Homo sapiens: one gene and its partners. Each later gene encodes a partner of the first gene's protein in a complex. Each region holds a gene or a part of one and is shown on either strand. Other genes may lie near its edges.

Region 1 (7,139 bases):
ACCTGAGCTGCCGGCCAAGTTTCTTGAAGAGAAAACCAATGGTGAGGAGGCTCAGGGTGGGCGGAGTGGAAAGGACGCAGGCCCGGTAATACTGCAGGTACCTCCTCAGGCCACTGGTGAAGGCCTGTGGGCAAAGAGGCTGGGAGGAGGGCGGCCAGGCACATGGACGCAGCCGTGCCCAGGGCCTGAGGGGCACCAGTGCTGGGAACAGCGCTTTGTTTCTTGCCTCAGCTCTGGGCTCCATTTCCAAGCAATGGGCCTCTGTGAGCCACACCCCGCCACCGGGCCAGGTGGAAATGCGGCCCATCCACAAGAAGCCAGAAGCTGTGGCCCACCACCAACCCTTCCTCTCATCTGAGCCCAGCTGCCCCAGGGGCGCCCACCACCAACCCTTCCTCTCATCTGAGCCCAGCTGCCCCAGGGGCGCCCACCACCAACCCTTCCTCTCATCTGAGCCCAGCTGCCCCAGGGGCATGGCAAAGGGGCTGGGGGGGAAATGGCGGCCGTGCTCTGTGCACAGACACTAGTGCTGTGAGGGCTGCAGCTGCTCCGACCACAGCTGTCTCAGTGGCACCAGCATCCTGGGCAACGCCACAGCAGCAGGCCCTGCAGGTCACACTAAGACAGGGGCACCCTGGACCAATCTCAGTCCACCCACCCCAGGAGCCGCCTGGCTATGCCTGCCAGATGAACAAGAACCACAGTCCAGCCCTTCTCAGCGTCCCCTGCTCTGACCCCTTCTCCACCATCTCTAGCTCTCAAGTCCCCCGGGGCTGAGCCTCTGCCTAGAAGCTCTCCCCGCCCCGTGCAGCTCCCACCATGCCCACCTCCACAGCCCATCTAAAACCTACACCTCACCACATCACCCCACCCGACAGCCCCTGCTGCAGCAGCAACAGTCAAAGGAGGCTGCGCTGCCTGGCTCCTCCAGGGCTCTCTGCCCACCTTCCCCAACACCCTCCTCTCAATCCCCCAAACCCAAATGCCCCATCATCCACCTGCCTATTCTCTCCCACTCAAGGTGCAGCCCCTGTCCCATGGGCCTCTTCCCAGCACATGAGCCAGCTTCAAGACTCACCAAACAGCAGCTTCCGGAGCCAGACTTGGCTCAGAACTCCCAGCAATGTAAATTCACCCAACAGGAGGGCCCTGCGCTGTCAGTCATCCACAATGTGCCGGGCCCACTGGGGAGCAGGCAGCAAGAGCCCCACTCACGCCTTTCCTGCCCTGCGCACCCCTTATGCTGGCTGCACCTGCCTCCTACACACCCCAGGGCCCACACAGCCCAGGGCCCACACACATCTGCCCCAAGTTTCTAGTGAGGTAAAACATCCTCACTGACCCATCCCTCAAGAGCCACTATCGGGTTTCAGATGTTAGCAAGGAAAGAAAAGGTTTAGACTCTCTGGTCCTGCAGAAGGACCTCTGAGATTCTCTCTTCCAGGTCGTGTGCACCGTTCTCACAAAGGTGTGTGACAACCATGAGGCAAAGGCCATACCTGGAACACGAGGCCCTTGCTGTACAAAGAGTCCAGGACGGGCTGCAGAGAGAAATGACTCAGGCGCGTGTAGCAGGTCCCATACTCGGCCACTTCCGAGAGCAGGCTGCTGATGCTCTCGGGAGACGCTCCTGACACGTGGACGCCCCGCTTCACCACAAAGGCCTGGGCCGGCTGCACAGGGGCAGAGGACACTGGTCACAGAGGCCAGGCACCCAGACCCCCAGTAAGGTGCCGTCTCCCTCCACCCTTGCACCCAACCCCACGCCACCTAGAGTGCCTCCAGGACCCAAAAGCAAATGCCCAGAAGGCATACCCAGAACTCCCACACCGAGGGACCAAACCGAGGCACAAATCCTCACTGACCACACTGAAAAATACATGTTTAAAATGCCAAGTGTAGAAAAGGGTAGAAAAAAACAGAACACCTTCCACAGGACACAAGTACACAGACAGCCTCCTGGGGCAGAAGCTATAAAACATGACGGCCGTGAGACCCGCTCATTTGACTCTTCGGGATGAATTAGAGAAATGATGGAAGATGCACAAAGACTCGCCACAGGACATTCTCCACAGTATGTTTATAACCAGAGAGTGGAGACCCCCAATAGAGGGCTCATGACAACCAAAACGAATGGGGTGTAGCAGAAGCCAGAAGGGAGGTTACAGCCGCAAATACCCACGTTAGAAAGGAAAAAAAATATCCCGCAATACAAAGGAACAAGATACCAAACCACAACAGCACCGTGTATACCCTAAAGAGATATTTTAAAAAGAGCTGTTAGGCCAAGCACAGTGGCTCACACCTATAATCCCAGAACTTTGGGAGGCTGAGGCAGGAGGATCACTTGAGCCCAGAAGTCTGAGACCAGCCTGGGCAACATAGCAAGACCCCCATCTCTAAAAAAATTTTAAAAGTTAGGCCAGGCATGGTGGCTCACGCCTGTAATCCCAGCACTTCAGGAGGCCAAGGCAGGTGGATCACTTCAGGTCAGGAGTTCATGACAAGCCTGGCCAACATGGCAAAGCCCCGTCTCTACTAAAAATACAAAAATTAGCCAGGCATGGTGGCGTGCACCTGTAGTCCCAGCTACGCAGGAGGCTGAGGCAGGAGAATTGTTGAATACGGGAGGCAGAGGTTGCAGTGAGCTGAGATCACGCCTTTGCACTCCAGCCTGGGAGACAGAGCAAGACTCCGTCTCAAAAAAAAAAAAAAATTAAAAATTAGCCAGCCGTGGTGGTGCATGCCTGTTGGTCCCAGCTACTCGGGAGGCTGAGGCAGGAGGATCAATTTGAGCCTAGGAAGTTGAGGCTGCAGTGAGTCATGTTTGAGCCATTGCACTCCAGCCTGGGTGATCCTGTCTCCAAAAAAAAAAAAAAAGAAAGAAAAGAAAAACAGGCTGGACGCAGTGGCTCACATCTGTAATCCCAGCACTTTGGGAGGCCGAAGCAAGCGGATCACTTGAGGTCAGGGGTTTGAGACCAGCCTCACCAACATGGTGAAAACCCATCTCTAATAAAAACAAAAATTAGCTGGGCGAGGTAGTGCACGCCTATAATCCCAGCTACTCAGGAGGCTGAGGCAGGAGAATTGCTTAAACCCAGGAGGAAGAGGTTGCAGTGAGCTGAGATCACGCCATTGCACTCCAGCCTGGGCAACAGAGCGAGACTCTATCTCAAAAAAAAAAAAAAAAAAAAAAAAGCAGTTAAACCCAAAACTAGCAGAAGGAAACAAAAAATAATTAGAGCAGAAATAAATACAGAGTAGGCCAAGCACAGTGGCTCACACCTGTAACACCAACACTTTGGGAGGCCAAGGTGGGTGAAATCACTTGAGGTCAGGAGTTTGAGACCAGCCTGGTCAACATGGTGAAACCCCATCTCTACTAAAAATACAAAAATTAGCCAGGCGTGGTAGTCCATGCCTGTAGTCCCAGCTACTTGGGAGGCTGAGGCAGGAGAATCGCTTGAACCCAGGAGGCGGAGGCTGCAGTGAGCTGAGATCACACCACTGCACTCCAGCCTGGGCGACAGAGTGAGAATCCGTCTCAAAAAGAAAAAAAAAATACAAAATAGAAAAACAATAGAGAGAACCAAACAAAAAGCTGGCTCTTTGAAAAGATCAACAAAATTGACAAGTCTTAGCTAGAATAATTAAGAAAAAAGATGACTAGGGCCAGGCACGATGGCTCACGCCTGTAATCCCAGCACTTTGGGAGGCCGAGACGGGCGGATCACAATGTCAGGAGATCAAGACCATCCTGGCTAACATGGTGAAACCCCGTCTCTACTAAAAATACAAAAAATTAGACGGGCGCGGTGGCGGGTGCCTGTAGTCCCAGCTACTCAGGGAGGCTGAGGCAGGAGAATGGTGTGAACCCGGGAGGCGGAGCTTGGAGTGAGCCGAGATCGCGCCACTGCCCTCCAGCCTGGGCCACAGAGCGAGACTCCGTCTCAAAAAAAAAAAAAAAGAAAAGATGACTATGAAAACAAGAGAAAAAAATCAAGTTACTAAAATCAGAAATGAAAAGTAGGGGCCGGGCGTGGCGGCTCACACTTGCAATCCCAGGACTTTGGGAGGCTGAGGCAGGCAGATCACTTGAGCCCAGGAGTTCAACACCAGCCTGGGCAACACGGCAAGACCCCATCTCTTCAGGCATTTTAAAAATTAGCTGGGTGGGCCGGGCGTGGTGGCTCATGCCTGTAATCCTAGCACTTTGGGAGGCTGAGGTGGGCAAATCACCTCAGGTCAGGAGTCAAGAGACCAGCCTGAGCAACATGGTGAAACCCCGTCTCTACTAAAAATACAAAAATTAGCCAGCCGTAGTGACATGCACCTGTAATCCCAGCTACTCGGGAGGCTGAGGCAGGAGAATTGCTTGAACCCGGGAGGCAGAGTTTGCAGTGAGCCGAGACCGTGCCATTACACTCCAGAATGGGCAACAGAGCGAGACTCTGTCTCAAAAAAAAAAAAGAAAAAGAAAAAGAAAAAGAAAAGAAAAAAATGAGCTGAGTGTGGTGGCACGTGCCTGTAGTCCCAGCTACATGGAGGCTAAGGTGGGAGGATTGAGATTCAGCCCAGGAGGTCGAGGCTACTGTGAGCTGTGATGGTGCCACTGCACTCCAGCCTGGGCAAGAGAGAGACCCTGTCTCAAAAAAAAAAAAGAGAGTCAGGGTTGGTTCCACACAATAAGGCTATCCCCACAACAGACAAGATGAGCTGTGAGCACGGTGTTGAGAACAGGCGCCCTCAGCGCCGGCAGCAGCTGGAGCTTGCTGGTGAGCACTTTTCTGGGGCAGTCACTGGCTGTGCTTCTAGTCCATTCTGAAGTCTAAGAATGGCCACCATAAAAGAACATTTAAGACAAAGGAAGGGGATGAGCACTTAAATGAAAAAGCTGCAGAGCAAGACTTCATTTTTCTGAATATATCCATTCACTTCTCCAGTGCCCAGCAAGAGGGCTGGCTAAACTGCAGCTGGTGCCAGAACCAGTAAGGCCCGGCCCCATCCCGGATGACACCGCATCCAGTGAGAAGAGCAGCGCAGGCCCCAGTCTCGGGACGCTCTCGGCAGGCAGATGCTCCTCCCGAGCGGTGGGAAGGCTCGGAAGGCGCCTGGCACTTCAGGACGGAAATGGAAATGCGGGGAGGAACATTTTCTATCGCTTTGCTGACAGCAATAAACATGTTATTTCTCTGCAGTTTTTTAAAAGGACATTAATAAATTAACACTTTTTAGAACCGAAATGGGATGATGCTGGCTGTCATCACTGGTGGCCCTGGGAGCTGGCCTTCCCTGCCACTCCCCACTCCCTGCACTGGGGCTTGTTCTGCCCCATAAAGGGCTGGGCACTGCGTGGTGGAGGGCAGGCCAGCCCCACACCACTGTGGCGGGGAGTGAGCAGTTCTCACCTGGCAGAGCGAAAACGTGGCAGACACGACCCCAATCAAGACGTTCAGCACGTCTTTCACCAGCTCGCACTCCTTCACCAGCACGGGCTGCGGGGCCTGTAGGACGCCCCCAGCAAGCAGCTGGAGCTCCCCTTGGTGGAGCCTGCAGAACTTGTCGAAAGCGTCCCTTCCCGCCTCCGTCAGGTAAGGCTCCTCTCTGTGGCCAGGGGGGCTGCGAGGGGTGCAGAAGAGAGGCCATGAGCAGACGTGGTGACCTGCACCTCAGCACCAGGGTGCTTTCTCTCGGGAATGGGCATGAACAGAAGAATGGAAGTGATTCAAAACAATAAACTCTAAGAAACATAGCCAGGTATGAATGTCAGCTCACCACCCAGCCTTTTGTGGATGCTGCTGCTGTGAATACCAGCACGATCGATTCTATCAGGACAACTCATGTGGAAAGTGTTCCAGGGCACCTTCCTGGGGTCCTGGGCATGGCCGGGGGTATCCGACTGGCCCAGCCCTGGAAGAGCACCCCAGGCCACGCCAGTGGCCCTCAAGATGGTGATTCACTCATAAAGTATTCTTCTGTTAGAAACAAAACAAGATTTGTACACCCATGTACACAACAGCATCTACACCCTGTCCATGGCAGCATCCACACCCAGGTCCATGGCAGCATCCACATCCCTGTTCATGGCAGCATCATCCACACCCCTGTCCACAGCAGCATCCACATCCAGGTCCACTGCAGCATCATCCACACCCCCTGTCCATGGCAGCATCATCCATACCCCATCCATGGCAGCATCCACACCCCCTGTCCACAGCATCATCATCCACACCCCTATCCACAGCAGCATCACCCACACCCATCCACGGCAGCATCATCCACACGCCCGTCCACAGCAGCATCTACACCCAGGTCCACAGCAGCATCATCCACACCCTCTGTCCACGGAAGCATCACCCACACCCCTGTCCATGGCAGCATCACCCACACCCACCCATGGCAGCATCATCCACACCCCTGTCCACAGCAGCATCCACACCCCTGTCCACAGCAGCATCCACACCCAGGTCCACGGCAGCATCATCCACACCCCTGTCCACAGCAGCATCCACACCCAAGTCCACGGCAGCATCATCCACATCCAGGTCCACAGCAGCATCGCCCACACCCCCGTCCACAGCAGCAGCATCCACACCCCTGTCCACAGCAGCATCCACACCCAGTTCCACAGCAGCATCATCCACACCCAGGTCCACGGCAGCATCGCCCACACCCCCGTCCACGGCAGCATCATCCACACCCCTATCCACAGCAGCATCATCCACACCCCCTGTGCACGGCAGCATCACCCACACCCCCGTCCACAGCAGCATCTACACCCAGGTCCACAGCAGCATCATCCACACCCCCTGTCCACGGCAGCATCACCCACACCCACCCATGGTACCAGCACCCACACCCCCGTCCACAGCAGCATCCACATCCAGGTCCACAGCAGCATCATCCACACCCCCTGTCCACGACAGCATCACCCACACCCCTGTCCCTGGCAGCATCACCCACACACACCCATGGCAGCATCATCCACACCCCTGTCCACAGCAGCATCCACACCCAGGTCCACGGCAGCATCGCCCACACTCCCGTCCATGGCAGCATCCACACCCAGGTCCACCGCAGCATCATCCACACCCCTATCCACGGCAGCATCCACCCCCTGTCCACGGCAGCATCAG
Region 2 (7,638 bases), on another chromosome or scaffold:
CTCTAGGGACTAAAACAGCCTTGTAAGACTAATAGAAGGCCGCAAGGTTAGGACTATGGGAGGGACCTAAAATCTGCTAAAATATAGGCATAGGTAAGCAATAACCAGCTACTGTTCCTTGCTTTTCTATAATTTCTTACTATTCAGAAGTCATGTAGCCAGAGGTCACAAGATTTGTAACTTCACCAATTGCTCCTTTAGATAACATCACTATTGTAAAACCTAAGATTGGTCTTGAGATATTTTCCAGGCTTCTGCATTCTGGCAAACCTCCTGATGCCACCCAGATACATGCCTCATACCAAGAAACTGACTCTACTAGTCCTATGACTCTCACCTAGACAACTGACTCAGCACAGGAAGACAGTTTGGAAACACCTATAAATTCATCCCCAACCAATCAGCAGCGCCCATTCCCTACCAACCTGCCCACAAAATTATCCTTGAAAACCACAACTTCCAAGCTGTCAGGGAGGCGGATTTTAGAAATATTTCCCATCCTTCCACTCAACTGCCTTGCCTCCATTAAACTCTTTCTCTGCTGCAACTCCTGCATTCTCAATGTTTGGCCTTTCTGGGAAGTGGGCAAGAAGAACACGTTGGCCTGTAATAGGAGAATAAATAAGTTTGGCAAGCAACAAGAGGGTGCAAGTATTCTGTGTAGAAGGAATTGCAAGTGCAAAGTAGAAAGAGGAGGCATACTACCAGTTTGAAGTTGCTTGGTATGTTCAATGAAAAGCAAGTAGCTAAAAGGCAAGAGAATTTTTTTTTTTTAAGTATGGAAAGGGAAAGGCAAAAGCTAGACAGAAAAGTGCTTGTTCATGGAGGAACTTGTGTGCCATTCTAGACATTTTACTGTAGGAAATAGGGAATCTAGAGTTTTAAGGAGGTGAGTAAATCAACAGGTTGGGTTTTTAAAAATTCCTTCTTGTGGCAGAGAAAATAATGGATTGGAGAATTTCCAGACCAGACTGTAAAAGTCACTATTAAAATAATCACGAAATGAGGAGATGACAAACTAAAATTTGATCTAGTGAACAACTGAATATGGGAGAAATAGAAGAGGGAGGAATGTAGGATAACTCTGATTTCTAGTTTAGGTTATAATATAGTAGTAGCATTATTTAACTTGGTGAAAATAGGAGAAACCAGGAGGAAAGATAGCAAGTTCAGTTTTGGTCATATTAAGTTTGAAGGACATTTGAGACAGATGTGTCCGGGAAGCAACTGAGTTAGGCATTAGTAGATCTGAGAGGAAAATTGAAATTTAGAAGCAAAATCAAAGGTGTTAGTAGAATCCATGTGAGTGGACAAAATCACCCAAGGAAAATGTCTAGACTAAGAAATGAAAGTAATCAAGGAGTTAATTCCAAAGAATGACATTCAAAAACCAGGCACAGCCAGTAAAAGGAATTAATGACTATGAACCTCAGTTGTCACAAAGAGACTAAGTAATGTAAATTTTGAGAAGTAATTACTGTATTTGGTATTTAAAAGGCCATTAGAAACTTAAGCAAGAACAACTTTCTTGAAGCCATTAAAGAAGCCAGACAGAAGACTTTTGTCTGTTTGATATAAGTAAAAATAATATCCTTTCAAGAAGTTTACTGATAGATAGGAGGACTAGGAAATAACTGGATAAACACAGGATGGAGGACATGGTTTTGCTTTATTTAATTTTCATAAGATGTGTGACTTGAGCACTGAAGAGAAGAAACTGGAGAGGAAAAGGCTGAACGCACAGGAAAGAAAAAAACAACTGGAAGCGAAATGTAACAGATGGAAGCAAATGAGATCAAGAGCAAAGATGGATGGATTATCCTTTAATATCCCTTTCTCTACACTAGAAATACAAGACTAAAGGCTCGGCAAAAATATAGAGCAATGTGTAGGTTGGGGGCATGAGGTTGAAGAAATGGCCTGTTATACTCCATCATGTTTAGAAAGGAGAAATGAAGAGGGCAAAAGACAGGGTTTGTAAAGGGAAGGTTTGAAAATGTCTTCACAGAGAATGGGTCAGGGGAAAACTGGGGTAACCAAAAGGATTGCTGAGTAGTATGAAGAAACAAGGGGTGGTGGGTGAGGGCTCTGTTTCTAAATTCATAGCTATAACTATCTAAAGATCTTTCTATCCTCCAGTCCGTTATCCATAAGTGCTTAAAAGATATGGTAGTTAAGTGAATTAACTAGAACCCTCTCAAACATAGGGGTGAATTAAAATAACCTATAGGCTTATTTAAAATGCAAATACCGAGCTCCATTCCTTTCATTCAGAATTTCCAGGGGTGAAGCCCAAACAGTGAATTCCAGAAGCTCTCCAAGCAATCCCAGGAGAAATTTCTGTTTAAAAAAAAAAGAAGAAGAAAGAAAAGAAAAGAGAAAAGAAAAGCAAGCACAGACCTAGAAGGTAACCAACTGGATAGAAGAGCGCTGATCCAACATACACCTGTTAATGGCCCTCGTGGGGGCGTGGGGCAGTGCTCTGCCACTCAGAAAAGCAAAAAGACTCCAAGATCTAGGGAGATTCAGATCAGTGTTGAGACAGTCACATACACACCACCCCATACTCTTAATAAAGCGCGTTAATGTGAATCTGTGAACATGAAAAATGCCATGATGAACAATGCAAACACATAATGTTTGTTCAAAACAGGTTATTAGACTCGATGCCTTACCCTAAATTTTCTGTTTCATTACTCTAGAGACTTAGTAACATTAGTGGAATTCAGGGTGCTGTAAGAAATACGGAGAGCGAGGAGACTGCAGGAACAGCCCGTGGGAAGGGGGAAAGAGATAACGGGGAGAAGGTCGGGAGGACCGGACAACTTTAAGTGCCCATCCGCCCGAAGACTTGGAAAGCTAAGTAAGTAGGACCCCAGAGCCGTTCTTCTGGCATCCCCTGGCACTCACCATTGTCTCAGGATCTCAGCACTAGAAAATAGGTATCGTTGAGACAGGAAGACACCACCACCACCACCATCATACGGTTACTCAGGCAACAAAGCCCCGCCCACTGTCGCACGAGGCGTGGGACGCCACCGCCCCACCTCTTCGTCCTTAGTGGCTGGGAGTAATCTCAGCTGCGTTCATCCAATCGACAGACCCGCCCCTCCACGCTGTCGCCTGGGGCTACGAGACGCCATTATTCTGTTTCCGGCAGTTTTACTTCCGTTTGTTTAACAGCTGGCCCGGAAGTTTAAGTGAATATGCGGCTTGGGCTCCAAAAGTTGCTGTACGGTATTTTATTTTAAAGTAGAAATCTGTCCGCTTTTCACTTACGGAGGCCTTACAGTGTGTGTTCTGTGTTACTTGAGTTTATACGCACTGCAGAATTTGTTTACCCTGCTCTTTTGGAAACGTATTCCGGAAGCGAAACCCTGAGTAATCGGAAGTGGTTAGGAGTGAGAGAGCTGCTGGATATGCGGAGGGACTGGGCGGGTCGGCTTCCGAATGGAAGAGGTCTGTGAGAAGTTAACCTGGTGATACCGATCCGAAGAGCCTATCAAGTGAAGCCCCCTGAAATACGGAGAATAAGAATCTTAGAGGTAAATCCGAGGACAAGCAGGTATAACTAAGGATGTTGGAAAGGGACGGAGGTCTGGCTGGAGCTCGGTGGCCAGTAGCTTTGGATTTAGGGAAAGATTGTTCCGGGAAGACTTTTTCAGACAGGGATGAAACTTAGGTTTCGACTTCCCCGGACAGCAAAGTTGACAGGCTTGTCGCTTCCCGGCCTATCGCTTTCATACCTGCTCACTCCCCCTACTTACTTCTTCACCCCCTCCGCTTCATTTGGCATTTGCCAGCAGGCACTCGCTGTGCCTGTACGTTTCGCAGAGCAGCTATCAAGGGCAGTTTCAGGGATCGTTACTCTTACGAAGGGTTTTTTGGATACCTCTTTTCGGAGCAGTAGAGTGTAAGTGTAGAAAAGTTTGTGACTGTTAAGAAAGTTAGTCGTCGGGTTCACTAATTGAACTGAGTTGTATCTAGTACTGAGAACGATCTTTTTTTGTAGTGAAACCAGTTGTCATCTAGTGTACAGTTTGTCATATTTATATCATTGCAGTAGCATCACCTTCTTATATGTTCTCTGGTAAATCTGAGTCTGTACTGTAAGACAATGTATACATTTCTGAAAGCATGGGCTCGATATGTTTCTCTTTTTACTTTTGGAGCTACACTATTTTAATTTTAACTTTTTATTACCAAAAAAGTATAAATTATGTTATCTTGAGTAATATTTTTTGTCGTTTGTTAAACATCTAAACAGAAGCTCCTTTTTGATATGTGTGTGTGTGTATACAAATTGTGTCGGTATGTCTCCTAAGAAAGTAATTACTTTAAAATTCCTCTTGTCATATGGATGACAAAACCACCACAGTAACTTCATTCCCTTTGCTTGGCTAAAATTCAGGACATACTTCTGACAATTTAGAGTGTATTGGTGAGGATGGTGAAACGGAGTATTTAGAAGTAAACCACCCCTAATTTTTTTTTTTGAGACTTTTAGTAGACATAACAATGCCTTCTGTGAGAATGGGATATAAGGGACATTTCTCTTTCTAAATGCATGCGTACTAAATACAGAAGCAATTAAAATATCATAACTTTTAAATTGGAGGTACTCTATGTGTTTATATGATATTTTTAAAATTATTTCATATGCATACATTTCTAGGTTGTTCAGCAGAAGTCTTGGAGTGCATTTTCAGTGGTTAAGGTGAAAAAATGACTACTAAAAATTTAGAAACCAAAGGTAAGTGGCTTTTTTATAATTGTTTTTAAAACATGACATTTATGACGATGTGAAGGAACGTTTGAGCCAGATAACTAGATCTCATGGACCCCCTTGGGAATCATTTGTTATTTCAGATCCCTTTATGTTTATTTTTTAGTGCAGTGTTTATATTTCAGTACTTTAGATGTACAAGTGAAATTTAACATCATTAGTTAGAATTTATTAGGTGACTACTCTTAAACATTTAATGTTAATGCAAAGTTTTTAACAGCTATATTCCCTATACACTAGAAGATTACGATTTAAATAAGAATACACATTTTAAAGATTTAAGTAGATAGACAAAGCAACTAGGGTGTATCAAAGATCTCTTTCATGTTGTATTAGTTTGCTGGGGTTGCTGTAACAAAGTACCACAAACTGCATGGCTTGAACAACAAAATGTATTCTCTCAGTTCTGGAGGCTAGAAGTCCAAGATGAAAATGTCAACAAGGCTGTGCTCCTTCGGAAGGCATTAGAGACACTCTCCTAGCTTCCAGTGGCTTGCTGGCAGTCTTTGGTGCTCCTTGTCTTGTAGACGTACCACCCTTATCTCCGCCTTCATATTCACATGGCATTCTCCCTATGTGCATGTTTCTGTGTCTAAATTTACCCTTTTTATAAAGACAGCAGTCATATTGAAAAAAGGAACCCAGTCTACTCCTGTATGATTTCATCTTAACTAATTACATCTGCAGTGATCCTGTTTCCAAATGAAGTCTCATTCTGAGGTAGTGGGGGGTTAGTACTTCAACAAATAAAGATTTGGGGGACACAATTCAACCCCTAAATTGCTAAATACAGTAGTCACTTTTTAGTCCTAGCTGATTTGTCCTCTCTAATATTTAATACTGTTGACCATTCCCTGCCTTTTGAGATACGTTCTTTTGATGACTTCCATGACATCACTTTTATTTTCAGTCTACTCTGTAGCCTTTCACTGTCCAATGCGGTAATTACATGTGGCTATTTGAATTTAAATTAATATTTTTTAAAAATTAAAAATTCAGTTTCTCAATGACGCTTGCCAAACTTCAAGTGGTCGGTAGGCAAATATGGCGAGTAGCTATTTCAATCATTGAAGAAAATTCTGTTGGACAGCCCTGCTGTAGCTGTATCTTCTCTCTTTCTTTTTCAGCCTCTTCTCCTTCTTATTTATCTTTTAAATATCAACACTTTCCACCACTGTTTCTTTTCTACTCTCATGACTTCAGTAATTATCTATATAAATGACTTCCAAATCTATCTATATCCCTAATCTCCTTCTTTATGATTCATACCCTTATAGACTACTGCCTACTGGCCATCTTCACATAGCTGTAGGCAACAATTTTAACATGTCCCATAGTGAACTTCTCCTGACCCAGCTTATTCTTTGGATGGGTTGAGTTCTGCATGCTAGAACCATCAGTTAAAGATGGAAAACTGTTTTCTAGATGCCAATTTTTCAGCAAACTGACCTCCAGCCACAAACCCTCTCTAAAAGCAGGTTGAAATAAGTTTAAGAAACAAGGAAGAAAGATCATGCTAATAAATATTTAATTGAATTTAATTCAGCTTTGCAACAGCATTTCATAAGTCACCAGAAGGCTTTTATACCATTAGATAAGCAAGTCAGAGACTGTAATGAAAGTAATAAACTGGGGATTAATGGGAAATAAGAGCAGTTAAATAATTAATGTGAAAGCAACCAACATGGTGCTTGTCAAAAAGCAAAAACTAAATACAATATTATGATTAGTCATTAGAAGTACTGGCAAGTTCTCTGTGAAATTAAATTACTTTTTAATATTTATTATTACTTGTTTTTAATGAGGATTAGAGTTATAAGGCACTTTAACAAACATTATTTTGTGTGATCTTAATTATCCAGTAAGGAAAATAATTCTATTAGCCATATTTCTATTTAATCTGTCATCTGATGTTAGTGAACAAAAGTTACTTGTATTGCATGGCCTGTGAAAAGGTGTACTTGGTTGACATTTGTCAGTTGTCTGTGCTTCCTGTAACTGCCTCAGGAGATAAGTACGGTTGTTTGGTATAGCAACAGAACTTCCTCTCAGAAGACATTTGAGCAGCACTGTCATCATAAGAGGGTTGTATCATGGCTGCTAGTGCTGTTTCTGAAAGGGAAACATACAGTAAATAGTAACAATTAGAAACTTAAAATCCAAAGCTTTTCTTGGATGTGGGATTAAAATTGAAAATAAAGCTATTAAAGTCAACTAGTTTAGTAATAGTAGACCAAATAGAAAGGTCTGAGACATTTAAATATTTTTGATTCCATAAAATAGTCTAACACTAGTTCTGTAGAATAATAGGTGTTAGGTAAAAAAGATATTCCATGAGCAGATAAATTTGATAAATGCTGTATTAAAAGAGAGGCTATACTATGGGACCTCTCAGAGTCCTATAGTATAACTTTAATACTAATGTACATTGAAACTCTGTAGAGATGCAGTATGCAACATTGCCCACACTTATTTGACCAGGGATCTCTATCCATAGAGCCTGTGGTAAGAAGAATGCTTAGATTCCACTTCAGTAAATCTCGATGTTACTCTTAAGTCCATTGTATGTAACTTATTTTACTAATTTAATAATAACTAAACTTTATTAGGTGATATGGGTGACATTTAAAAAGACTCTTGATTTAAAATTACCACATGACAATCCCTAATTTGTTTAACTGTATCATAGCTGAATTTGTATATGTTCTGGAAAGTCTTTCAGACTATAACCAAGTTAGGAATTAATGATTTAGGGTAGAGGAAAAAAAATAAAGCAGTTTTTAAATGGGTTAGTTTTTGGATGTTAAAAATGAAACACTCTAGGTAGTGTATTAACAGACTAATGAGCTTCA
Region 3 (2,763 bases), on another chromosome or scaffold:
TTGGGATAAGAAAGTTCAAGAGATGGACAATAGTGATAGTTACAATACAATAAGAATATTCTGAATGTCACTGAACTATGAAACTTAAAAATGGTTAAAAAGGGCAGGGCATTGTAGCTCATGCCTATAATCCCAGCACTTTGGGAGGTTGAGGCAGGCAGATCATCTGAGGTCAGGAGTTTGAGACCAGCCTGGCCAACATGGTGAAGCCCCGCCTCTACTAAAAATACAAAAAATTAGCCAGGTATGGTGGCAGGTGCCTGTAATCCCAGCTACTCGGGAGGCTGAGGCAGGAGAATCATTTGAACCCAGGAGGCGGAGGCTGCATTGAGCCAAGATCATGCCAATGCACTCCAGCCTGGGTGACAGAGTGAGACTCCATCTCAAAAAAAAAAAAAAAAAAAGGTTAAAATGGTAAATTTTATGTTCTGTATCTTTTGTCCTATAGAAACACAAGTTGAATTAACAAAAGCATATATTAAAACAAAAGTACAGGCCAATACCACCAAAATGGTTTTATTTTTGTCATTGACAACAAGCACAACACTGCAATTGTATCATTATTTTGTTTAGTTTCTTAAATATTACTTAAGTATGCATTAAAAATATGTTTACATTTTAAAAATGTGACACTTTAAAGAAGTCCTCTGTAAACACGATCCCTTCTCAATATATTTTCCTGCTTTGTTTCATACATAAATAACTTAATCTACAAAGTCATAAATAATACTATCAACTCTTATGGCCTGGAAGTATATACAAATTTTGGAGTCTGACAAAAGTGTTCTTTATGATTTTATAAATAACACATAGTATTTGTAGTGTTGATTATAAATCAAATGACTTTTTACAAATTCCTACTGTCTCCTCAACCTGTTCTACCAGTAACAGATCTTCCAGTTTACTTGGTTGGTAAAGATGCCAGGCATTTAAAAAGTCAAAATGGTCAAAATTCTATATTAAAAAAAAAAAAAGGCAGAGAAGGTTGCTATTTAAATATTACCAAATCTTAATAAAACCACTTCAGCTTGTCTGAAAAACAAAAAATGCTAGTAAAGAGTGAATGCTTGTACAATCATATAAATGGTACTCAATAAAATCTAAAATTTAAGAAATAATAAAATCAGATGAAATCCATATTAGTTTTGCAAAAAAACTCCACTGAGATTCTATTACAGGAACAGAATCAATACTATTCTACATTTTCTAAAATTTATTTCTAATCTTCACTTTGATGAGTTAAAATTTTAAAGGCAAGAATAATGACAAACAAAACAATTCTGAAAAGCCATACTTATAATCCTTGACATCAAGATGTTAAAAAGGTTTTTTAAAAAAAGCCATACTTGAGATTCCTAATATAGAACATTTGATTGTTTAGTTTTGTTTAATGACTGGAAATCCTTATTTCTTCAAAAAATAGCAAGTATCCTTTGAAACACATCACCCATCTAATAAGATTGTTTAGTTTTGTTTAATGACTGGAAATCCTTATTTCTTCAAAAAATAGCAAGTATCTTTTGAAACACATCACCCATCTAATAATTTATTAAATAACCATTCAAGATTTATTAGGTAAGCACTAAAATTACTTTTATGTAATAAAAGTAAATAGGAATTTTGCATGTTTGTTGTTTCATTTTACAAATTTTTTTATTCCGTTATTTATAGGATATAAAACTTTAAGAAAACATTCTCAACTAACATTCTCATTAGATGTAAATGATTCAAATTACAAATAATACTAACCTAAGCATTGTCATTACTTTTAAAATCCAAGTTTCTCAAAGTTTGATTTTTTTACTCAATACAAAAATGACCTGGTTCACACTATTAGCTGCCCAACAAACTGTTTGAAAAACTAAATATTCTTTGTTCAAGAGTAGATTACAAGAAATGTTTTCCATGCTCTTATTTCAAAAAACAAGATTCTGATATACATAATGAATCTAAATAAAAATTCACAAGTGGTGGCTGAAATCCTGTCAACTTTCAGCCCAATACAATATAAATCCACAGTTATAATGCATAAACAATTCAAAATTAAAGTTTATAATGGAAATGTCAACAAGTCATAACTACTACACATTACTACTGATGGGTTCCACTATACTTCAACCTGGCACAGCAGATGTGCACATCTGATAGACAGACTGCTTAGAAAATTAAAGCTATCAGAGCTATAAATAAGGAATACATAAATATGAACATAGCAATGCCAAAGCATTAGAGCTGTTAAAAAAAGTGAATAAGATGTGATGTAAACACATCTGATAGTTCTCTCTGTAAGCCACTTTCCACTGATTTATAAAGCTATGGTTTTATAATTCTTTTAAAAAGTAAAATTTTTCTACACTGCTGCATGCAGTAATTTCATTGTACATTCTCAACTACAATGCAATCTTCAAACCCTCTTGCAGAGCTTGACATATCTCATCAGAATTTCTCCAGAAAGTCAGCTTGTCATATTTTCAGCAGCCTAGAACAAGAAAGTAAGATTCATTACAATAAAACCATGGAAAAAGAGGCATCATGAAGATAAATTTGTCAATACTGCACTGTCATTAACAAACAACTATTCCCCATAAAACAGAACCACTTTTATCACAGTAATGCAGTGCTTTTCATGTTTTGCTATACATCAGGACTACCTTTTGAATGTACAGTTAACAGTCCACAGGCTAACAGTGGAAAATAGTTATATCACCTAAAATAATAGTTAAGAGCACAAAAAACATACTGCTACTTGAAACATTAACCTAT

Evidence for each region. Proteins that work in one complex are often made in the same cells at the same time.
Region 2: TUBGCP6 (region 1) and NME7 share a complex: the UniProt entries of both Homo sapiens proteins name them as parts of the gamma-tubulin ring complex.
Region 3: the proteins of TUBGCP6 (region 1) and MZT1 are in contact, whole or in part, in a crystal structure (PDB 6M33), measured with the Homo sapiens proteins. Residues at the interface, in NP_065194.3 of Homo sapiens: Met1, Ala2, Ile4, Leu7, Phe8, Asp10, Leu11, Cys12, Ala14, Leu15, Pro17, Ala33, Leu37, Val40, Ala41, Ala44, Leu45, Asn48, Ile70, Leu73, Lys85, Arg88, Leu89, Leu92, Val93, Glu95, Leu96, Leu104, Leu105, Ser109; in NP_001065243.1 of Homo sapiens: Asn17, Ala20, Val21, Thr24, Val27, Leu28, Glu30, Ile31, Ser32, Ile34, Leu35, Asn36, Thr37, Leu39, Glu42, Thr43, Leu44, Ile46, Cys47, Arg49, Leu50, Cys51, Glu52, Gln53, Ile55, Asn56, Pro57, Glu58, Ala59, Leu60.

What each region holds. Positions count from the first base shown.
Region 1 is NC_000022.11:50,227,905-50,235,043, forward strand, and holds part of TUBGCP6 (gamma-tubulin complex component 6), read right to left. Parts: intron 5,623-7,139; coding exon 5,412-5,622; intron 1,674-5,411; coding exon 1,500-1,673; intron 125-1,499; coding exon 3-124; intron 1-2. UniProt on the Homo sapiens protein: Component of the gamma-tubulin ring complex (gTuRC) which mediates microtubule nucleation.
Region 2 is NC_000001.11:169,364,798-169,372,435, forward strand, and holds the start of NME7 (nucleoside diphosphate kinase homolog 7), read right to left. Parts: upstream 3,001-7,638; 5' UTR 2,914-3,000; coding exon 2,911-2,913; intron 1-2,910. Other genes in the region: BLZF1 (golgin-45), read left to right, coding at 4,726-4,753. UniProt on the Homo sapiens protein: Possesses an intrinsic kinase activity. Displays 3'-5' exonuclease activity with a preference for single-stranded DNA. Does not seem to have nucleoside diphosphate kinase activity.
Region 3 is NC_000013.11:72,707,867-72,710,629, forward strand, and holds the end of MZT1 (mitotic-spindle organizing protein 1), read right to left. Parts: intron 2,480-2,763; coding exon 2,456-2,479; 3' UTR 501-2,455; downstream 1-500. UniProt on the Homo sapiens protein: Required for the recruitment and the assembly of the gamma-tubulin ring complex (gTuRC) at the centrosome.